7 separate regions of the Homo sapiens genome follow, and all the other regions are reported to be linked to region 1. The links are microRNA targets in miRTarBase. Many come from high-throughput screens and were not tested one by one. Region 1 holds a microRNA gene; each other region holds the end of a gene's coding sequence.

Region 1 (3,094 bases):
TCTGCTGATGTCATCTGAATGAAGGCATCGCCCGATGGCCGGCCCTGTGCACACCATCTTGTGAGCAGTTTGTCATGTGTAAGAGTGCCTTACCCCTAACACACACCCCTTCCTATTTATGTGTTCCCCCTACCAAGCAGTGGCTTCACCTGCTGGTTGAGCACCATGTGTACACCGTGGGGCCGAATGTCAGCTGCTGCCTCCCCCAGAAAGCTCAGGATGTCTTCAATGGTGGCCGTGTAGGGCAGGCCTCGGAGGCGTACACAGTCCCTCCCAGTCCCAGGTGCCAGTGGGAAGGGGATGGGCAGCAGTGGGGCAGTCAGTGTAGGAAGGAGTGGGCCGGATGCATAGCGGTTCAAGACCTAGTAAGGAAGGCAGCAACAGGCTGGTCATGCCAAGTAGGGCAGGGACACAGAGGGCCGCCCTGGAGTAACAGTACATCTGGGGGTGGGGAGCCCTGGGCGCTCACCTGCTGCACTTCGGCTGCAGTGCTCCGGAAGAGTTCAATGTATCGCTTACCCAGCATGCCCTTGTGCCTGCGCAGTGCAGCCTGTGCCAGCTCCTCACAAGCAAAGAGGGCGAAGGCATCACCAGTCGGCCGGCCATCAGGATGGCGCACAAAGAGCAGCCCCTCGGTACCCCCAGTCACTGGGCACTCTGGCCCCAGGAAGCCAAGCACGTCCGTTGGCCCAGCCGAGAAGGGCAGTCCCCGCAGCCGCAGGATCACTTGGTCTTCCCGTGACAAGAAACGAGCCACCTCTAGTGATGTGCCTGTGTATGAGAGTCGCCTGCTGACTTCACTCATGCTCCTCCAGACACTCACCCATGCAGGGGAGCAGGCAGGCAAGGGGTGGTGGGGAAGTGAAATGGATCAAGAACCAGGGGAGCCAGGCCCTGTTTGCAGTATACTCACCCCCTGCAATCTTTACAAACTCCTCCCCTGTCGCTTTATACACCTGTGGGTACAGAGAGCAGCAGCCCATGGGTCTCAGGCCTGACTCAGATTGGCCCTGCTCCGCTCCCAGCCCAAAGCCCCACCTCAATATAGCGGACGCCCATGTGGTGCTTGTGTCTCTGCAGCGCTAGGTCCCGCTGCTCGCTGTCCACAAAGCGGATGAGGGCCTCGCCATTTCTGCGGCCCTGGGCGTTGAGGCAGAGTGCTACACCACCCCTGTGGAGCCAGTGCTGTTAGTGCCTCCTGGGTAGGCCTGTCCAATTGGGCCCACCCACCCTGCCACACCCACCTGGCCACGTTGAGCCCTTTGAAGAAGCGAGCCACGTCCTGGTCTGATGACTGCCACGGCAACCCACGAGCCCGTACCACAGTCTCACTGTCCACCACATCAGCCTTGCTGCTGTAGGGGCAGGGCACAGTGCTGTCAGAGCTATTCAGCTGTTGTCACCCCCAGCCCCTGCTCCCACACTCACCAAGGCCCCGTCTCGTATTTCTGCTTTATCACCTCGGGCTTCGAAAACAATTGACCTGAGAAAAGATGGCCTGGGGGTCAGCAGGGTCTGGTGGAGAGGGGTGTCCCCACCAAGTTCTGCAAAAAGTGGACAATTGAGAGAGATGAAGAAATGACAGGCCGAGCACAGTGGCTCACGCCTATAATCCCAGCACTTTGGGAGGCCAAGGTGGGTGGATCATTTGAGGTCAGGAGTTCCAGACCAGCCTGGCCAACATGGTGAAACCCCATCTCTACTAAAAATACAAAAATTAGGTGGGCATGGTGGCAGGCGCCTATAATCCCAGCTACTCTGGAGGCTTAGACAGGAGAATCGCTTGAACCCGGAAAGTGGAGGTTGCAGTGAGCTGAGATTGTGCCACTGCACTCTAGCCTAGGCTACAGAGGGAGACTGTCTCAAAAAAAAAAAAAAAAAAGAAATGACAAAGAGGATTCCCCCGTGGTCTCTTAGAGAAGGTCACAGTGGGGAGGAGCAATAGGCATTTGTCATCCCTGAGAACAGGTGACAGGCAGTGAGGGAAACCTTACTGCTGGGCTCTTTGAGTAGATGGAGGATAACAGCTACCATTGTCTTGACTTCCCAGACCCCAAAGTCATCCTCTGTGGCATCTGTCTCCAGTCCTAAACCTATGGGCAGAGAAGTGACAGTGAAGACATCTTAGCATAAGCACTAATCCTGTTTACTCCTGGGCCCAACTCCCCTCCATAGACACATGCTGGAGACCAGCATACACATTTGTTTTGGCCCAGTTCATGTGTGCACATACAGATTCCCAGTCCAGACATAGACAGACACATACCCACATTCCAAACTCATCCTAGCACAGACACGAAGACACAGTACACTCAGGGACTTAGCAGATAACGCAGTCTTGTATGTGTCCATATTACCCACCCACAGCATGCACATACTCAGACACATGTACCCACAGTGGCTTCTCCACCCTAACCCTGCTGGGTCACAGATACCCTGTGCCATGGTGGCCACAGTGAGGTCCCTGGCAGGGCAGGTGCTTGGATGCTGCATATGGAATTCTCTTCGGAGGTCATAGAAGGAGAAGAACATGTCGGGGAGCACCAGGTTCTGGGGGCACATAGGATTGAGGATGAGCGCCCTGCCCACCCTCAGGACAAGAGGGGTTCTGGGAACCTTACTGACCACCCCACCCCACCCGGTTTTCCTTCAGGAGCATACCTTCCTGGAGGCCTCGGGGTGCAGGACCTGTCGCAATAGCTGCTGCCCATCAGTGCAGAGCATGTAGGGGCCCCCGCCCAGCAAAGCCACATCCCCGTTCACCAGCTGTGAGAACTGGGGATAGGGAATGGGGAGAGAGAAACACACAGATTCACAGCTGGGCAGGCAGGAAGTGAGGGTAGGAGGAAGGAGGCAGGCTGCAAAGCTGGTTCAGCCAGATGTTCAGCCCTATCCTGCCTGGGAATAAGAGGCCACGCCTGTTGAGCCTAGCCCTATGTCCCTTCCCCTCACCCCCCAACCCTGTTCCAGTCCACTGTCACCTCCTCCAGGCCAAATGAGGGCAATCACATATAACCGAAGCCCTCAACACACACACTCCAGGAGTTTGGAGTGGGGCCAGAGCAAACACCTGGAGTGGGACAAGCAGGTGGGA
Region 2 (3,094 bases), not on the chromosome of region 1:
CTGGGACATCTTTATCCTTTTGTCACAACCATTTTCCTCATTTATGTAAATTGTGCCTTTACTGTTTCTCAGGTTGCCTATCTACTGTATCTCAAACAGCAGTAGTGTCAGCATTCCCAGGCAGGTAGTTCTTCTGTAATTCCATTTATGTTCAATTTGAATTTCACTTCCAGTGTTATTTTTTACTTCTCTGGTACACTTTGATCTTTATTAGCCAACTTCTACTTTTGATTATCCATTTTTGTATAATGTGGATTTACCACTGGGAGACAAGCAATCAACACAACTACATTTTGCCATCTGCAAGTAAAGTGAATAACAGATGTGAAGTAGCCAATCACAGACAGCCTTTGGAAGAAGTGATGTAACTGGTCCTCATCATGATGCATGTATGAATATCCTGTTACTGCTACCAATTCCACAAACTTACTAGCTCAAAACAATTCAAATAATTGTCTTGCAGTTCTAAAGGACAGAGGTCCAAAATGGTCTTAACTGGGCTAGAGTCAAGGTGTTGGCGGGGCTACATCCCTTCAAAAGGTTCTAGGAGAGAATCCATTTCCTTACCTTTTCCAATTTTTTGAGGGTTCCTGCATTCCTTGGCTCATGGCCCCTTCTTCCAACTTTAAAGCCAGCAGTGTAGCATCTTCAAATCTTTCTCTGTTTCTGTTGTCACATCTTCCCTGACTCTGACCATCTGCTTCCCTCTTATAAAGACCCTGGTGATTACAATGGAACCATTCAGATAATCCAGGATAATCCCCCACCTCAAGATCTCTAACTTAATCACATCAACAAGGTCCCTTTTGCCATGTAATATAATAGTTCACAGATTTTAGGAATTAGGATGTGAACTTTGGGGTGGGGGGCATTATTCTGCATAACACAATGTGCATTTCTTATTTACACAGTGGTTGTGGTTTGAAGAACTATCAGTGAAGTTTGAATTTCATGCAGTTACTCACAGTTAATATCCACTGGTAACTGAAATTTGAATTGTGTTGCAGGGGAGACTCATGTTATTAAGTAAACCATAGTAACTGGGATTTGTGCACATCTGAATCATGCAAAATGGGGATGGCCTGTTTCAGGTCCAGCTGACAGGTCAAACAGAATGAGAAAATGCATGTGACTACACATGCTGGGCCATGGCTGCAGAGAATGAGGCAGAAGGGACTTTTGCTTGCCCTCATGTTTGAAGAACACTCACAGGTAAACAGATTGAGCTTTCTCTTGTGCCAGATCTTTCAAGCCTACCAGAATACTGACAGCACTTCAGCTTCTGAGAAACATAGTACAGGTAAATATGGAAAAAGAAATAATGATATTCTTCCCTCTTACTGCTGCCATCTCTGCCTTTCTCACCCTGCCACCCCAAAAAAACTATGTCTAAGTCTCTTATGCATTAATACCCAACTACTGATAATGCATTACATTTTATAAAGCAACTATCTTTTTTCATTATTCTGATTAATAAACATAAAAGAGCTCTTCTGGTAACTGATTAAGAATATAATCAGTGTTTCCTATGAACAAGCTATGGAGTAACTAAATAAGGGACACTCTTAGACCAACTATAATTTTTAACAAAACAATTGTTGATATAAAGTTTCTCATAAATTCATTTTATTTCAACAGCAAAAAGATTAGCTCCATCCCTCTGATTGGGATCACAAAGTACAATCTTTTCAGCATGGGTTTTCTCACCATGCCACAAACAGAAAGAGGCACTAAGGGACTGATAAGGGGGTATTTTCTGTCTCTGGCAGTATTATATTGACCTGCAATAAAAACATCTGATCTTACAGAACAGGATACCTCTTGAAGAGGTATAGTTTATTTTATAATATGTAAGTATTCCAAATACATTCATTGTATGAATTAGGGAAGGAAAAGCAATAAGAAACATTTCATGAATATTCATTCCTACACTCCAACCATACCAAGTCTTACTACTTTATAGAATTCATAATTTATTAGCCAATACTATTTTAAAATACTATTTCCGTACTGTAAAATTGATATTAGAGGAAAAAAAGTCACACACGATGCCTACCACCACCAGGGTGAAACCAAATCTTTATCTGCCTATGGCTGCTGTCTGGGTCGATTGAGGCAGCAGCTTCATTTTCTTCATGGTTTACCCAGACAGATGTGGAACCAAAGTGCTAAGTGCATATTTCAAGCATCTGTTCTGAATATGTTTAAAGCCACAGTAAGTTACAAAAGGCAAATTCATAGATGCTCTTTGAAAGTGAATGTAACTATTATACTTGGTATTCTACTTCCCCCACGCCCCCAGAAGTTTTTGATGCTATAGACACTGATATATAGTTTGAAACTCTCACTATAAAATTACTAGGCTAAGTCTATCAAGACTTGAAAGTTTGTTTTGCTGAGGTAGGTGAAAGGGTAATCTCTGTTCTTTCCAGGTGACTGCATCTGCACAGGCTTCCCTGGGAGGACTTCATCAACAGCACAGTTACACATCAAAGTCCTTTAGCTCTCCCCAGCTGGCGCCTATTTTCACTTTCACTTTCAATTTCACAGACAGTTTTACAGCACTTTCCATTTCATTCTTGACAATCTGAGCTACCTAAGGAAAAAAAAAATGTAGTTAACAAACTGCCCAGTCAAAGAATGTTTCCCAAACCATCCCCTGAGAAAGTTATAAACCAGACTGGAGCTCTTCACCCAATGGTGCTTAAAATGCTAAATCAGAAAAAATAAAAAATAAAATAAATAAATGAATAAATAAAAAGACATCTCATACTCTTCTTCACTGATGAGCAGGAATTTCTGAAAGTTTTTGCTAGAATGCTTGGAGCTTAGAAACCCTAAGGGAAAGACTCCAAATTTTTGTTTAATTCCTCCAAGACAAAAACATCTTGCATTGGCAATTCTTCACTTATTAAGAACTAGTACAAAACGGAACACTCTTAGCTCCTTTTCTACCTGTAAGGACTCAATATTTATACAGCCATCCCAGGGCTAGGGTAGAGTTCCAAAATCCTCATGCACAGGAAACAAAGCTGTCGGCCTGACAATACAGTGTCTTGTCTTCCTATGGAATGGACACAAGCATTGCAAAAAT
Region 3 (3,094 bases), not on the chromosome of region 1:
TGTCATCTGGGTTAATCAAATAGTGGAGCCAAGCAGAGTAATGGGCTTAATATGGTTTAATGGATTCTCTTTGTTTTGAATTGTTAGCCTCTTAACTAACCAGAACCGTATGTGTTTTTCCTGCATTTGCTCTGACTTAGTCCATGACTTTCATCTGCAGGATGTGTCAGAACTAAGGAATGAATTACAGCGGAAAGATGCACTAGTCCAGAAGCACTTGACAAAGCTGAGGCATTGGCAGCAGGTGCTGGAGGACATCAACGTGCAGCACAAAAAGCCCGCCGACATCCCTCAGGGCTCCTTGGCCTACCTGGAGCAGGCATCTGCCAACATCCCTGCACCTCTGAAGCCAACGTGAGCAAAGGGCAGAGGCAGTTGGCCTATGAGTGGGCTGATGCGTGAGGTTGGCCACACATTCCTTCCTGTGGACTTGACATTTTGGAAGAACTCTTTGCCAGATAATGAGTTCATTTTAGTTTTATGCTCCCATTGAAAAATTTTCCACTATTTTTATAAGCTGTTAATTTCTTGAGTACTTTATAACATGTCTGTAGCTTGGATAAACCAAGTAAGTATTTTTTTTTTGTCTTTAGCAAAGTTTAGACTGTGAATATGATGACACAGATTCTTTTTTATGGTGGCTTTGCTTGTTTTAAATTTTTGCATGACTTTTCATCTTTTTATGTGTGTTTCCTGTAGTTTGATCCGAAGGAAAAGAGTATAGTAGCCTGAGAATCAGGAGATGGGAGTTTTAGTCGTAGGCCTTATGATAATTACCCCGCGGTGGTGTGTAGAAAAGTATGTAAATTTGCTCTGTTTTAAGACTTTGAACTACCTCAAGAAGAGGAATCTAATACAATATTTGTAATGTTTCCAGAGCTCTCAGAATGAGGATTTTTTTGTAAATAGGTCAGAAGACGATGGAACTGTCCTGGGTTAGTATAGTAATCTTACAGTAGGATCCTTAGGTTGATGCTGACTTCTGTTTGGGGTATGTTTATATTTTATGTGGTGTTTACTTTTTTTTTTTGACATAGAAGGATATAGTGGGAGCAGTGATACGCTAACATTCATTACATTCTGCAGTAATGAATCTGTTTAATGGGTCAGTCACTGTTTTCAGTAGCATGACAGTGGGGTCATAGGTGAGCTGTGAGGGGCTAAATCTTGCTCTGATTGTCTCTTTCTGTTTTGAGTTTTGTTTGCGTGTATCATTTTTGTTCTACATTTTGGGAGGGGAAACATTTTCCGTTAAGGAAGGTTGTTGCCAGTGGATTTGACTCCAAGGGACTAGAGTGTCGTGGTGGGGGTGGGGAGGGGCTGCAGGGTGATCATTGGCTACTGAGCCTCCACAGAGAGCATGTGGTGCCCTGCCTTTGGGAGGGTATTTTGCTCTCGTTAGTTTTGTGGGCAGCCTCAGATTCCCTGTTGAGTTGCTGTTAAGAAATGGAGATTTCTGGCTCTCATTGGGTAAGGTTTTCTGAGTTTTATATCTTATTAGATCACATCCCTTTACCCAGAACAAATGCTTCACTGTCTTCTGATTGGCAGTACTCCTGTGGCTTTGTGCCTTGACTCATTTTGTTGTCTTCAGCCTTGAAGGCCCCTTCCCACATGGACTGACATCCACTCATGTGCCTGATCCCTGAAGCCTCCCAGCACCCATTCAGTTGCATCCCCAGGGCACAGGACTTTGATCTCTTCTGTTGCCCTCGCTAGGTTCTCCCTGGTGGGTTAGTGCTTTGTATCTGTCTCTCTGCCCCTCACTAATTCTACACCCATGAGAATTAGACATTATTCTCCTTAAATATATAAGGACCATATAATCTGTATCTTTTTGGTGTGTGTATATGGTATCTGGCACATGGATCTCTGATTACCAGCCTGACATCAACAAATCCCCTCAGTTACAACGTATAGGTTAAACAAAGCTTTTAAAAGCTCATGTGGTATGACCTCAAGGTTGCTAACCTGGTCACTCATGGTAATTAGAAACTCTGATTGGCAGCTTTGTATTTCTTGACTAAAAACCTAAATAAACTGATTAGGTTTTAGGCGTTCTTTCAAAGAGGTTCTTGAGAAGATTGAGAACTATCCTATTTGGTGCTTAGTGAAAAGATTTTGAATTACTGTACGTACCAGTTGTTGCCATTTCTTTATTAAATTCAGAAGTTTTTTTGCCAAATAACAATTTTTCAATCTTCTCTGTTTGTAGACATCTTACTGGGTGATGAATAATCCTCTAAGAAACCCTCTGAGCTGCTAACTTTTTCAGGGAGAAAATCACAAGCCATCTTCTCAAGTTCCCCTAGAAACCTGTGGAATGCCCTCTGCCAAGCACTGCTCTGGTACTGGGGAGTGGAGTATTATGTCTTGGAAGAGACTCCTGCTGTGATTGTCCAGGGGTACGTTCTGGTCTGGCTTGGTGCTTGACCTTAGGTCTGCCCACAGGCTTCAGGCTTTCAACTTTGAAACAAACATCTGTGCCACACACATTTTGTAAATGATCCCATTCAGTCTTCTAGAAGCCTTATAACAGAATCAATATTGTTTTTCCCATTTTCACAGATGGATAATAAATCTGTAAAATAGGGATAAGACTAGGACCTATTCCCCAGGATTACTTCTGCAGATTAAAGGAGATGTTGAGGCCAGGTGCAGTGGCTCACGCCTGTAATCCCAGCACTTTGGGGGGCTGAGGCAGGAGAATCGCTTGAACCTGGGAGGCAGAGGTTGTGATGAGCCAAGATCGTGCCATTGCACTCCATCCTGGGCTACAAGAGTGAAACTCCGTCTCAAAAAAGAAAAAGGAGATGTTGAATGGGAAGTCAGCAAGGGTGCTAGAATGTAGCAAGTATTCTTCAGGTGTTAGTGATTTCTGTTGTTCGGGAAGAGGAGGGTTATGGAGGAAGAGTATGGGATTTAGGTGGGTTAAGTGATTTGCCCAAAGTCAAGAGGTTAGTCTTTAACCTTTGGCAGAAGCAGGATTTGAAGTGAGTTTTCACACCCCTCTTCCCTGGTCAGTGTGTTGATAACAGCCCACCCACCTGTGGTTCCAGGGTGTTCTTAAGAAGCCAAGGTTGTCTTGGGTGTG
Region 4 (3,000 bases), not on the chromosome of region 1:
ATAGATATCATTTTCTTTGAGAGAGCCTCTCTGTTATTTAGGCTGACAAAGGCAAGGACCATTATCTTAAGCCCTGGGCCCGGATGAAGGCAGAGTGGCCGTCACACTCCAGCCAGCTGCAGCCCCATTGGAAGCAGGCCTCACCTCTGAGGTTTCAGGTCCTTGTGGTCAGCCCCTGCCCTATGTACACCCTCTGAGGCAGGAGTTTCTAACTTAGTCTGGGTACCTAGGCCCCAGGACCCTCACCAAAGCCCTTTGGCTTCTCTTGGGAGCCTCTGCAGCCTGGGAAGTGCATCTTACCCCTAGGTGCCCAAGGGGTTTCTCTGCCTCTTGCTGGACAGAGCAGCAAATAGGAGCCCAGAAACAGGGAGGATGGAAGTAAGCTCCATCCCTCCCTGCCCAGGAACTGCCCCAGACCTTCTCTAGAGGTTCGCAGGCAATCAGCTAGATGGGGATTGCTGAATCAGATGGGCCACCCCATCTTCCCTCATTGGTCTTCTCCCTTTTTTTCTTTTTGAGATGGAGTCTCGCTCTGTCGCCAGGCTGGAGTACAGTGGTGCGATCTCGGCTCACTACAACCTCCGCCTCAGATTCAAGTGATTCTCCTGCCTCAGCCTCCCGAGTAGCTGGGATTACAGGCACGCACCACTGCACCCAGCTAATTTTTGTATTTTTTTTCTGAGACAGTGTCTCGCTCTGTCACCCGGGTTGGAGTGCAGTGGTGCGATCTCAGCTCACTGGAAGCTCCGCCTCCCAGGTTCACGCCATTCTCCTGCCTCAGCCTCCTGAATAGCTGGGACTACAGGCACCCGCCACGACGCCCGGCTAATGTTTGTATTTTTAATAGAGACGAGGTTTCACCGTGTTAGCCAGGATGGTCTCGATCTCCTGACCTCGTGATCCACCCGCCTTGGCCTCCCAAAGTGCTGGGATTACAGGCGTGAGCCACTGCGCCCGGCCTAATTTTTGTATTTTTAGCAGAGATGGGGTTTCACCTTGTTGGCCAGGATGGTCTCGATATCTTGACCTCGTGATCCACCTGTCTCAGCCTCCCAAAGTGCTGGGATTACAGGCATGAGCCACCGCACCCAGCCAGTCTTCTCCCTTCTTAAGGCCTCAGGGAGGGGCCCTCCTTGGGGTGGAATTCTCAGCCCTTGGTAGGTCTTACCTCTGCCCAGTCTCTGGCACACAGTAGATACTCAGTAAATATTTATTGAAGGAATTCTGCCCAGAGATGATTGCTATTCTTGCCTAGGAGCAGGTGAGATGAAAGTTTCCTATGCAGAACATTCATTGATACCTTTTTTTTTTTTGGGAAGGGGGGACAAGGTCTCTGTCACCCAGGCTGGAGTGCAGTGGTGTGATCACAGCTTACTGCAACCTTGAGCTTCTTGGCTCAAGGGATCCTCCCACCTCTGCCTCCTGAGTGGCTTGGACTACAGGCCTGTGCCACCATGTCCAGCTAAGTTTTAAATTTTTTGTAGAGATGGAGGTCTCCTTATGTGGCCCAGGGTGGCCTCTCAAGTGATTCTCCCATCTTGGCCTTCCAAAGTGTTGGGATTACAGGCATGATCCACCACACTTGGCTTTTTTTTTTTCCCTTTCCTTAATTTTTCTGTAGAGACAGGGTCTCTATGTTGCCCAGGCTGGTCTTGAAGTCCTGGTCTCAAGCGATCCTCCTGCTCTGACCTCCCAAAGTGTTTTTTTTGTTTGTTTGTTTTTTGAGACGAGTCTCATTCCATCACCCAGGCTGTAGTGCAGTGGCGTGATCCCAGCTCACCACAACCTCTTCCTCTCCAGTTCAAGCAAATTTCCTGCCTCAGCCTCCCAAGTAGCTGGGATTACAGGCGACTGCTACCACGCCTGGCTAATTTTTGTATTTTTAGTAGAGCTGGGGTTTTGCCATGTTGGCCAGGCTGGTCTTGAACTCCTGACCTCTAGTGACCCACCCATCTTGGCCTCTCAAAGTGCTGGGATTACAGGCGTGAGCCACCACACCCAGCCTTTTTTTTTTTTTTTTTTTTAAAAAAAAGACAGGGTCTTGCTGTGTTGCCCAGGCTGGCCTCAAACTCCCAGGTTTGAGTGATCCTCCCACCTCAACCTCCCGAGTAGCTGGGATTACATGTGCGCACTGCCATCTCCAGCTGATATCTTTTTTCTTTAAATGTTTTCAGGAAGTGGGCTCATTACGGGATGCACACAAAACCTGGTGGATACTAGCACCAAAAGCACCTATCTACCAGCCCCACCTCCCTCCTTTTCCATTCAACTGAGATGGAGCAGACAGGATTTGGCAAAGTCCATGCAAGCACTCTCCCTTCAGAGCATGTGGTATTGATGGCAGCCAAGTGTAAGACTGGGTGGGGAGCCAGAAGGAAATGGAGTCGTCAGGATGCTCACCGAGTCAGACTTTTCAACCGGAAGAGACTAGCTCATCCAAACCAACCTCCTACGTTTTCTTTTTTAAAATTAAATTTTATTATTTTGCTCTAACAAAGTAACCTCCTACTTTTTCAAGGCTCAGAGGTGGTCAACAATTTGCCCAACTCACATGGCAGATAGTGGCGGAGTCAAACAGGGCACTCAGGTAGGGCTATTCCAGCCCAGAGCCGTTTGCTTGGCCTGCAGTACCGCCTTTGGCCATAAGAGCCACTCATGGCTGGTCCTGGAGGAGGCAGGACATCCCCAAAGATGCTTATTGACGCCAGCTGGACGTGGCTGGCGGGAAGACTGGCACCTGTTCATGAAAATAAAATCTCCTGATAAGGTTTTCTTGCGGAGCCTGGTTGAGCCTGAATCAACAAACAACATCCTGAACCTGAGCACCCCTTGCTGAGCTAGGAGGAAAGGAAGGGTGAGGGGAAACGTACTCCAGCTCTGTTTGTCAGCTTCATTAGTTCACAGAGTTTATGACCTGCTGCAGGGAACATTTTTGTGTGTAATTCAAACACATTCTGTTTTATCATTCCCTCGGTACCCTGCTGGGACAAGAATGGGCTG
Region 5 (3,094 bases), not on the chromosome of region 1:
AATTTTTAAGTGATTAATAGGAATTTTTTCCCAATTAGAAAAGTTACAAATTATCCAGCAAAAAACCTTCTATGGGCCGGGAGTGGTGGCTCACGTCTGTAATCCCAGCACTTTGGGAGGCCGAGGCGGGCGGATCACCTGAGGTCAGGAGTTCAAGACCAGCCTGGCCAACATGGCAAAACCCCATCTCTATTAAAAATACAAAAACATTAGCCTGGCGTGTTGGCGGGTGTCTATAATCCCAGCTGCTTGGGAGGCTGAGGCAAAATAATCACCTGAACCCTGGAGTCAGAGGTTGTGGGGAGCCGAGATTGTGCCACTACACTCTAGTTGGGCGACAAGAGTGGGACTCCGTCTCAAAAAAAAAAAAAAAAAAAAAAAAAAACCTTCTATCATATCCTCTTTATTTCTTGCAGCAAAATATACTGTGACCATGTAAGTCGTTAACAAAGATACTATTTTTCTAAATAAATAAAATGGGTATAACTCACCAAAACGTAACAACAAAATAATTCCTAAGAACACTATGAAAAGCAAGATAAATAATTATCTCCTAAACGACAAAACAGGGGAATTGCATTTAGATTATCTAACAGGCTATAACCATTATTGCACAACCAATAAGCACTGAAACACCATATCAAGCTACATAAACTCATATAAAAGAATTAATTCTGATAACATTGCTGAATTCTTTCTGGAAGAATGCACCCACTAAAAATATCAGGTCCAATACGTTAAATATAAATGAGAAACTGGTATTAGATGGGAAATATCCTTTGCCACATCAGAAAACTTCGTCAGTATTTCTCTGGGGTTTGGAGAGAATTGGGAGTGATGTCATGTCATCTTGATCTGGGAAAAAAATGGGTCGGTTTCTTTTCCAATTTTTTAACTAAAACAGGGGATTAAAAAACGTTTAAATTTGAAAATACTTTTCTGTAGCATCTTCTACTTGTCTGTTTCCAAATAAAATGCAAATTTGGAACCCAACGCCAGCAGATAGTTCCTGTGCTCCTGCACAGCAGGCCCAGGAGAGGGGCCTGATCCTAAACAACATCACAGGTAAGACTGAGAAAAACAAAAACAAAAACAAAAAACAACAACAAAAAACAACAACAAAAAACACTGGGTTTTGTCATCAGGGCTTGAATACTGCCCACAGGTTCTCACGAGGACGAGGAAGTGGGAAGAGATATTCTAGGTAATTTTTTTTTATACAATTAACAAACTGTGATCAACCAACTACCTAGGTATTACAATTTTAATAACGTTTTCTCAGTGGTTTAGCTCCTTAGTAAACAGTCTGTACAGTTAATAAACAACTTTTTTTGTTAGAGAAGATCATGAAAATTTTGTCAAAGATTTGACCATACTCCTCTGTATTTTAATACCCTGGTGAACACTTAACATTTTTTTGGTTACATTTCTAATTTGATAGAAAGCATTTGTAGTCAACTGAATTTTAATGTAGCCAAGAGGAGAAAAGGAGTGGTTTCAAATCAAGCGTTGTCCACACTTTTAGAATGGGAAGGCATAGAACATGGTATCTCATGGGAAAGATCATGTTTACAGTAATGCATTCCAGATTAAAAAGTAAAAGGGGCAGAGAGAGTAGAGGCTGTTTCTCAGCATGTGAGGATCTAGTGACTGTCACCACATTATTTGAGAAAACTGCTACCACTACCACAGGCCAGGATCTTTCCATTTTTGTCTCTCACCTTCTCCCAGAACCAGTCATGCTGAATGACCATCACTGATCCTACGGAACTTTGACAAACGATGAAACTAGTGGAGGCTTTCAATGTAGACATCCTCAGCAGAGGAGTGTAGCCCTCGTACTGCTGCTACAAGTCACACGCTGAGTCACATTGCTGTCTGCAGAGTGATGTGAACCTGTGTATACGTGCAGTTTCTTCTTTACCCTTCGTCCCTTCCCCAACATCCTCAGTGAGCAAATCGCATTTCTACCTGGTGAGAACACCCCTGTAAAGAGCCTACTTTGTTGGTCCAACACAGTGTGTCTGCCCAAATGCCCTTTATTAATTAAGTCACCTTTTGGGGAGTAACATAATCAGTGTAAATCAAATGCTGTCCCCATCCCATTCCCCAAGAACCTGCATCTTGAGAATTTTTGGCTGTGTTTTGTAAAAGCTTTTTGCTTTTACGCTAGTGGTGATGTTGGAGGAGAATACAGGATAATGCATCCTCCCTATGTCTAAAAGAATAGCAGGCTCTAAGGCAGACTGTCTTCATTCTGAAGGGCCCAGTAGAGCATTACCACAGCCAAGCTGTTTCCTGAAAGAACAGCAGGTGCCTAGCACTCTTTGCTTCCAAATGCCACTGAAATGAAAGAAGAAAAGAAGAACAGACAATAAAAGGTAATAAAACCCAACCAAATAAATGACGACCACAGGTCAGCGCCCTCTCCTGGGCCTGCCGGGCTTTTCCAGTTTTGCTGTTGGCTTCTGGTCCTCCCAGGCATCGGACCCCTAGAGGGCTCCTCTGGCATCTCCGAAGACCTCTTCCAAAGGCTCTCTGCATCTCTCTCCTCCCCACACCAGTCTCTTCATTTGAGGCGCTGAGTCACGTTGGCCAGGGCAACTGCAAAGGCCTGCACGGCTGAGAACGGATACTGGAAGTCTAGAATGTACGCACTGCCATCAATCCGTCCAAACTGCATCACCTGGAGGAGGGCAGGGGAAGCAAAGACATTAAAGAATAAGGTGAAAAGGCCAGGCGCAGTGGCTCACGCCTGTAGTCCCAGCACTTTGGGAGGCCGAGGTGGGCAGATCACGACGTCAGGAGATAGAGACCACCCTGGCTAACACGGTGAAACCCCGTCTCTATTAAAAATACAAAAAATTAGCCGGGCGTGGTGGCGGGCGCCTGTAGTCCCAGCTACTCGGGAGGCTGAGGCAGGAGAATGGTGTAAACCTGGGAGGTGGAGCTTGCAGTGAGCTGAGATTGGGCCACTGCACTCCAGCCTGGGCGACAGAGGAGACTTCATCTCAAAAAAAAAAAAAAAAAAAAAAAAAAAAGAACAAGGCGAGCAAGGCGACAGCCGGGTCTGCATGGCTCCTTATGGAAGCAG
Region 6 (3,094 bases), not on the chromosome of region 1:
GCCCTCGCCGACCCGCTGCCCTGTCCCCCAGGTGTGCGAGCCGCCGGAACGCAGGCGCCCGGGCCGCCGCTGGAGCGTCAGCATCGACGAGCGCCGGCGGCTGGCCACGCTGGGCGGCCGGGAGAGGCCGGGCGCCGCCGGGACCCAGCTGCACTGCAGGGTGCGCGGGGGGCGGGTCCTCCCCGCCCCGTCCCCGCCCCGCCCCGCCCCTCCGCCTCGCCTCCCTCGACTCAGTCCCACTGGGCCCTTTACCCCGGCGCTCCCGGGCCCCGCCGTTGTCCCCTTCCCGCCCCTCGAGGCTCCCTGACCACCCTCGCCCGCAGGACGTCGTGCAGATGGTAGCCCAGCTGGTGTCGGAGGACGTGGACAAGGACGTGCTCCTTCCCCACCCGCTGAGGTCCACCGAGTCCACCAACGCCTTCCAGGCCTTCCTGGCGCGCAGTGCGCCTTTCTGGCATAATGCGACTTTCGAGGCCTCGAGGTCACCCCCTTCCTAAGAGCCCCATTCAGCCCATTGTCTGTCTTCCAGTGCCTTTCCTTGGGGGCCCACGGTGGGGGCAGCCTCTGCGCCTTCTTTGTGCCCCACCAGGGGGTCACCACCCACCCATGTTAGGAAAACAGGCCAGGCAGGACCTGGCTCCGGACAGCCTGCAGCTGCTGAGGCCTTGGAGACCGGGCTAGGGGCTATGGGAGGCCATCTAGGGGAGGGGAACACTGCCCCGGGTCAGTCTGAGAGGGCCCTGGCAAGGCCTGGGTAGCAGGAGCTTGCCCTCGGGGCCGCTGGGAGGAGGCCTGGGGTACCTGGGCCTGCCTGAGGTGCACTGGTGTCCTGGGAAGCCCCAGTGGCAGGCGCTGCCTGGAGACTCAGCTCCTTGGCTGGCCTGGTCTGGGGAACTGGGTATCTGCCTGCACCAGGCTGTGAGATGGGCCAGGCAGAGTTCTCCAGGGGGCGGGGTCTCACATTGGGTCCTGCCTCTGAAGACCCAGAAGGGCACACGGGACCCCAGGGGTGCTGTGGTGGGGAGCAGCAAGCCCAGGGACCCAATGCAGTGCCCAGCACAGAGGGAGGCTGTCTGGAGGCAGAGATGCCTCCTGGCCTCTGGACAGCGATGCTGGTGGTGGACGAGGGCCAAGAGGGTATCCTGCGCAGGGGGTCTGAGCAACTGTGAGGAGCTGGCTGCCGCAGGGGCCTGTGGGACATGGTCCACTGGGTGACTGCCTCGTTTCCAGGCTGCAGGGCCCTCGGAAGGGTGCTGAGCCGGGGTAACGTGTCCCAGCTGCATTTTGGGGACACTAAGTTGCAGGGGGACTGGATTGGGAGGCGGGGCAGGAGAGCTGTGAGCATGGGTTCCCAGCCCGGGGTGGGTGGGGGTGGGGAAAGGGCCCTGAACTCTGTGACTGACTGTTAGGGGCCTGACTGGGCTTCTGTGGAGGTGGCTAGGTGGAGGAGGCTTTGGGGCAAGCGGAGGTGATCACTCCTGGGCTCCAGGTGAGGGCAGGAGCTGGACCTGTGCGGTGGCCTGGACCACCAGATACACTACATGCTGGCTGTGCTGCCCACCTGGCCTGTAACCCTCCCCTTCCCGCTGCTGAGAAGCCACCTGACTGCACTGCCAGCCACCTGCTGCCCTGACACAGGATCCCTGGCCCGAGTTGAATCCTCTGCACCTGCCTGTCTCCCCTTCTTACTGTAAGACTCAGTGAAGTTCCCTCCTCCTTCAGGAAGCCTTCCAAGATTACACAGCCAGGTGCTCCCCTTCTCTCCCAAGTCCTCTGAATGTCATTTGGTGCACCCTAGGGATCCTCTGCATTTCTCAGGAGCCCTAGGGTAGGTGGATGGAGGGCAGATCCTCCAGGGGCTAGGGCAGGTGTCCTTAAGGGTGTGGGGAGTTTTGGGCAGGGCACTGTCCTTAAGGGTGTGGGGAGTTTTGGGTCATGACCCACCCCCTCTGAGGCCCCTGATGATGATGTGGGGAATGGGATCCTATGGGCCCAGCTGCATGCCAGGCAGGCATCCCCAGGTGTAAACAGGGCAGAGCGGAGCTGACAGGTAAGCAGTTGCCATGGGGGTGATGAGCTGGGCAGTCCTCTGTTGCTGAGTGGCTTTAAAGAACCACTCGTTGTTCTGTGACTTGGGGGTTGGCTGGGCTCATCCTGCCAGCTCTCCTGCTCTCGTTTGAGTGTCTCCTGAGGCTGCAGTCAGAGCGTGGTGGTCCAGGATGCTGGTGATGCTGGGATGGTTGCCCTCTCTGCTCCATGAGGTCTCCCTACAGAGCACCTCCCCCATGGTGGCAGCAGAGACAAAACCCTGGCCTCCTTCAGGCTGAGGCCCAGAGCCAGTCTCCTGGTGGGTAAGGTGGCCACAGGGCCAGCTGGCAGCAGGGTATTGGCACTGAGAGGCACAGGCCTCTCCAACAGAGGTGGTGCCGGGACAGGGGCAGTGCCTGGAGACCGCTTAGGTTGTCACAACTGGGATTTGTGTACTAGTTTTCTGTAGCTGCCATAAAAATTGCCACAAATTCAGTAGGTTTGGTTTCTTTTTCTTTTTTCTTTTTTTGGTGGTTGGGGCGGAGCGGGGGGCAGGCTTGCTATGTTGCCCAGGCTGGTCTTGAACTATTGGACTCAAGTGATCCCCCGACTTTGGCCTCCTGGGTAGCTGGGACTGCAGGTGCATCCCACCACACCCGGCCTTTATTTTTTTTTTTGTAAGTTTTTATAGAGAAACAGTCTTGGTATGTTGCTCAGGCTGGTCTTGAACTCCTTGACCCAAGCAATCCTCTTGCCTCGGCCTCCTGAGTAGCTGGGGTTACATGAGTGTTCCACTGGTGCCTGGCTTTGAGTGTTTTAAAACAACACAAATGTATTAGCTAAGTTTTGTAGAAGTTCAAAATGGGTATCTTTGGGCTCAGAATGAGGGGTTGGCAGAGTTCTGTTCCTTCTGGAGGTGCCAGGGGAGACCCTGTTTCCCTTTTTCTAGCCTCAAGAAGCCACCTGCATTCCTTGGCTGGTAGTTGTGGCCTCCTTCGGAGCGGCCGAGCCCCTCTCTGCCCTGCCCTTCTCTGCCCACCTCTCCATTGCCTCCCTCCTGCACCCT
Region 7 (3,094 bases), not on the chromosome of region 1:
CACCCATGTAAGATTTTAGCTTTTTATCCATGAAAATATTTTTGTGATTGGATCTCATAGTTTAGTTAAATATTAAGGTATTTTCGATGATGAAGTGTTTTGATAAAATTTGTACTTTTCATTTATAATAGGCCCAAAAGAAATCCTTTTTTTTTTTTTTTTTTTTTTGAGACAGAGTCCCACTCTGTCACCTAGGCTGGAGTGCAATGGCATGATCTCGGCGGAGGCTGCAACCTCCGCCTTCCAGACTCAAGCAGTTCTCCTGCCTCAGCCTTCCAAGTAACTGGGGACTACAGGCACGTGCCACCATGCCCAGCCAATTTTTGTAATTTTTGGTGGAGACGGGGTTTCACCATGTTGGCCAGGCTGGTCTCCTGACCTCAGGTGATCCGCCTACCGCAGCCTCCCAGAGTGCTAGGATTACAGACGTGAGCCACCTCACCCAGCCAGAAATCCTAGTAAGTCTTGAGGTATATAGTTCTACAGCAAAGCCGGTAATTGTGATTTTTGGGGTTTTTTGTTGTTGATGTTGTTTTTAAATCATAGACAGATGGGGGTCTCACTGTTGCTCAGGCTGATCTCGAACTCCTGGGCTCAAGGATCCTTCCGCCTTGACCTCTCAAAATGCTGGGATTATAACCACCAGGCCAGCCCAGTACTTACGTTTTTTACTAGGTCATTGATATTCCAGAAAGCTAAGTATTTTTAGTAATTTTAAAATGTCCTATCTTTATTTCTGAGCATTTGTTTAAAAATGCTAAGTCTGATGCCACATTGCTGTCTCCCATGGGTCCTTTGGTTCCAGGAAGGTAATACAATTTCATAAATTTATTTTTGAAGATTTCCTCACGGTAGCTTCTACGTTGCTAAACTTGCCATTACAGTCAACTTCCCTAGCACAGAGGAAAAATAGCAGTAGAATATAAGAGATTGAGTGCTCTTAGCAAATCTTTTATTACCCCAGCATAGTCTCTAGTGGTGTAATTCTCTATTGATGTGAACATTTCTATTACTTATGATAGAGAATCAGTACAAAAGTTTATAAAGCAAAGCTGAAGTTTGTCACTTGTAAATGGTATAAAGGACAAATTAGAAACAGATTTTGATTTCCTAAACCATGTATTTCTCAAGCTGCTTTCTTGTGACCATTTTATACTACTTCAGGCTCCTGATTTCAAATACATTTTTAAAGCACCTAAATAGGCCAGGCATAGTGGCTCACACCTGTAATCCCAGCACTTTGGGAGACTGAGGCGGGCGGATCACCTGAGGTCAGGAGTTCGAGGCCAGCCTAGGCAACATGGTGAAACACCATCTCTACCAAAAATACAAAAAATTAGGTGGGCGTGATGGCACATGCCTGTAGTCCCAGCTACTCAGGAGGCTGAGATGGGAGGATCGCTTGAGCCTGGGAGATGGAGGTTGCAGTGAGCTGAAATCGCACCACTGCACTCCAACCTGGGTAACAGAGTGAGACCCTGTCTCAAAAAAAAAAAAAAGCAGCCTAAATTAATCTTGACTTTACCATACCCTAAGAACTCTTTGTAATTACAACTTGTATATTAAATCCAAGAGTAAAATTAAGCATTAGAGCTGTTTTTCAGAAAAGATTTGTAGGGAGAACTTCTAATCACTTATAAGGTAAATTATTGAGGTTCAAGAATCATAAGCTAAAATCTTGGTGCCTTGGCTAGGCATGGTGGCTCACACTTGTAATCCCAGTGCTCTGGGAGGCCAAAGTGGGAGAATCACTTAAGGCCAGGAGTTCGAGACCAGCCTGGACAACATGTGAGACCTCGTCTCTACAAAAAATAAAAAACAATTACCCTGGCATGGTGGTATGCGCCTGTAGTCCCAGCTACTTGGGAGACTGAGGTGGGAGGATCACTTGAGCCCAAGAGTTTGAGGCTGCATGAGTTATGATTACACCAGAATTCACTACAGCTTCCAACTCCTGCACTCCAGCCTGGTGACAGAGTATTATATAAAGAGTATTAAATAAATAAATAAAATATTTGGTGCCTTGTCAGAAATGAAACTGTGATTGATAAAAACATGCTGGGGCCAGGCACGGTGGCTCACGCCTGTAATCTCAGCACTTTGGGAGGCCGAGGCGGGCTGATCACGAGGTCAAGAGATTGAGACCATCCTGGCCAACATGATGAAACCCCATCTCTACTAAAAATACAAAAATTAGCTGGGCGCGGTTTCGCCTGCCTGTAATCCCAGCTACTCGGGAGGCTGAGGTAGGAGAATCACTTGTACCCAGGAGGTGGGGGTTGCAGTGAGCCGAGATCGCACCTTTGCACTCCAGCTTGGGCAACAAGAGCGAAACTCCGTCTAAAAAAATAAATAAATAAATAAATGCTGAAACAAACATAAGTGGGAAAATACGGAAGGCCCAACTATTTATTTACATATAATATTTCTACATATTTATGGGGTACACGTGGCATTTTGTTGCATGCATAGAAGGTGTAATGATCAAGTCAGGGTACTTAGGGTATCCATCAGTTTGATCAATTTTTTTTTTTTTGAGACAGTCTTCCTCTGTCACCCAAGCTAGTGTGCAGTGGCGCAATCTCGGCTCATAAGCATTCATGAAGAAGAGAAAGGGAAAGATGTATTGAAGGTAGAACATATACCAAAGCACCAAGTACATGGAGTTGTCTAGAGAGCAGCAGGCATTATGGCTTAAGCACAGTTGGGGCCTGGTTGCCCAGAGACGGCATGGCAGCAGATGAAGCCAAGAGTTAGGCTGAGTGTAGATTTGGCTAACATGTATGCCCTAAATACGTAATGAAACAAGAAAAATGGCAATTTCTCTTTAAAAGAGGATAGACAACTTCATTTCTTTATCTGAGATTGCTCTGGTATGATGATAGTCTCTGGTTTTGGTGTTTCATTCGTGATGAGCACTTCAGGGCTTTTTATCCTTTCAAAGCTATAGCATTCAGTTTTGTCTTCAGAAGATACTGTTCTAGTGCTGACCAAATGAAAGCCTTCCTTTAATAAAGTGTCAATCAGTAAGCCGAGGACATTTGTTCCGTTGGCCAATTTTCGGTTATCAGGTTTTATAGAAACATACCTAGGA

The links. The annotated mature microRNA hsa-miR-6773-3p reads ACUGUCACUUCUCUGCCCAUAG and lies in region 1 at 2,094-2,115, opposite strand. An mRNA with a match to its seed (bases 2 to 7 or 8) in the 3' UTR can be bound and repressed. Matches are read on the target gene's strand: a 7mer-m8 pairs with bases 2 to 8, a 7mer-A1 pairs with bases 2 to 7 and ends in A, and an 8mer does both.
Region 2: miRTarBase lists POLQ as a target of hsa-miR-6773-3p. The part of its 3' UTR that is shown has no 7-base or 8-base seed match.
Region 3: miRTarBase lists MED28 as a target of hsa-miR-6773-3p. The part of its 3' UTR that is shown has no 7-base or 8-base seed match.
Region 4: the mRNA of SLC16A5 is a reported target of hsa-miR-6773-3p. The part of its 3' UTR that is shown has no 7-base or 8-base seed match.
Region 5: the mRNA of TULP4 is a reported target of hsa-miR-6773-3p. Seed matches in the 3' UTR shown: 7mer-m8 at 1,651-1,657.
Region 6: the mRNA of TEX22 is a reported target of hsa-miR-6773-3p. The part of its 3' UTR that is shown has no 7-base or 8-base seed match.
Region 7: the mRNA of KCNRG is a reported target of hsa-miR-6773-3p. Seed matches in the 3' UTR shown: 8mer at 2,550-2,557.

What each region holds. Positions count from the first base shown.
Region 1 is chr16:68,231,333-68,234,426 of GRCh38, forward strand. MIR6773 (microRNA 6773) reads right to left here and starts at 2,167; the gene lies at 2,094-2,167. ESRP2 (epithelial splicing regulatory protein 2) reads right to left here. Exons shown (of 15, transcript NM_024939.3): 3 at 2,662-2,775; 4 at 2,436-2,550; 5 at 1,995-2,093; 6 at 1,429-1,483; 7 at 1,245-1,355; 8 at 1,039-1,171; 9 at 914-956; 10 at 470-771; 11 at 150-362; 12 at 1-44.
Region 2 is chr3:121,429,822-121,432,915 of GRCh38, forward strand. POLQ (DNA polymerase theta) reads right to left here. Exons shown (of 30, transcript NM_199420.4): 30 at 1,610-2,596. The coding sequence ends at 2,483. Among named protein-coding and RNA genes, the nearest start is that of POLQ, 110 kb to the right of the region's middle. RefSeq lists an enhancer at 2,438-2,487.
Region 3 is chr4:17,623,441-17,626,534 of GRCh38, forward strand. It overlaps MED28 (mediator complex subunit 28), which reads left to right. Exons shown (of 4, transcript NM_025205.5): 4 at 161-3,094. The coding sequence ends at 358. Among named protein-coding and RNA genes, the nearest start is that of MED28, 10 kb to the left of the region's middle.
Region 4 is chr17:75,105,617-75,108,616 of GRCh38, reverse strand. It overlaps SLC16A5 (solute carrier family 16 member 5), which reads right to left. Exons shown (of 7, transcript NM_004695.4): 7 at 2,455-2,737. The coding sequence ends at 2,584. Among named protein-coding and RNA genes, the nearest start is that of ARMC7, 2.9 kb to the left of the region's middle. RefSeq lists an enhancer at 2,927-3,000.
Region 5 is chr6:158,506,170-158,509,263 of GRCh38, reverse strand. TULP4 (TUB like protein 4) reads right to left here. Exons shown (of 14, transcript NM_020245.5): 14 at 1-2,686. The coding sequence ends at 2,570. Among named protein-coding and RNA genes, the nearest start is that of TMEM181, 52 kb to the left of the region's middle. RefSeq lists an enhancer at 2,279-2,779.
Region 6 is chr14:105,411,337-105,414,430 of GRCh38, forward strand. It overlaps TEX22 (testis expressed 22), which reads left to right. Exons shown (of 4, transcript NM_001195082.2): 3 at 32-160; 4 at 324-2,523. The coding sequence ends at 497. Among named protein-coding and RNA genes, the nearest start is that of MTA1-DT, 6.9 kb to the right of the region's middle. RefSeq lists a silencer at 65-194 and enhancers at 266-769, 770-1,272.
Region 7 is chr13:50,020,208-50,023,301 of GRCh38, reverse strand. It overlaps KCNRG (potassium channel regulator), which reads right to left. Exons shown (of 2, transcript NM_173605.2): 2 at 2,380-3,088. The coding sequence ends at 2,848. The region is part of intron 10 of DLEU2 (deleted in lymphocytic leukemia 2); the gene reads left to right. Among named protein-coding and RNA genes, the nearest start is that of KCNRG, 6.3 kb to the right of the region's middle.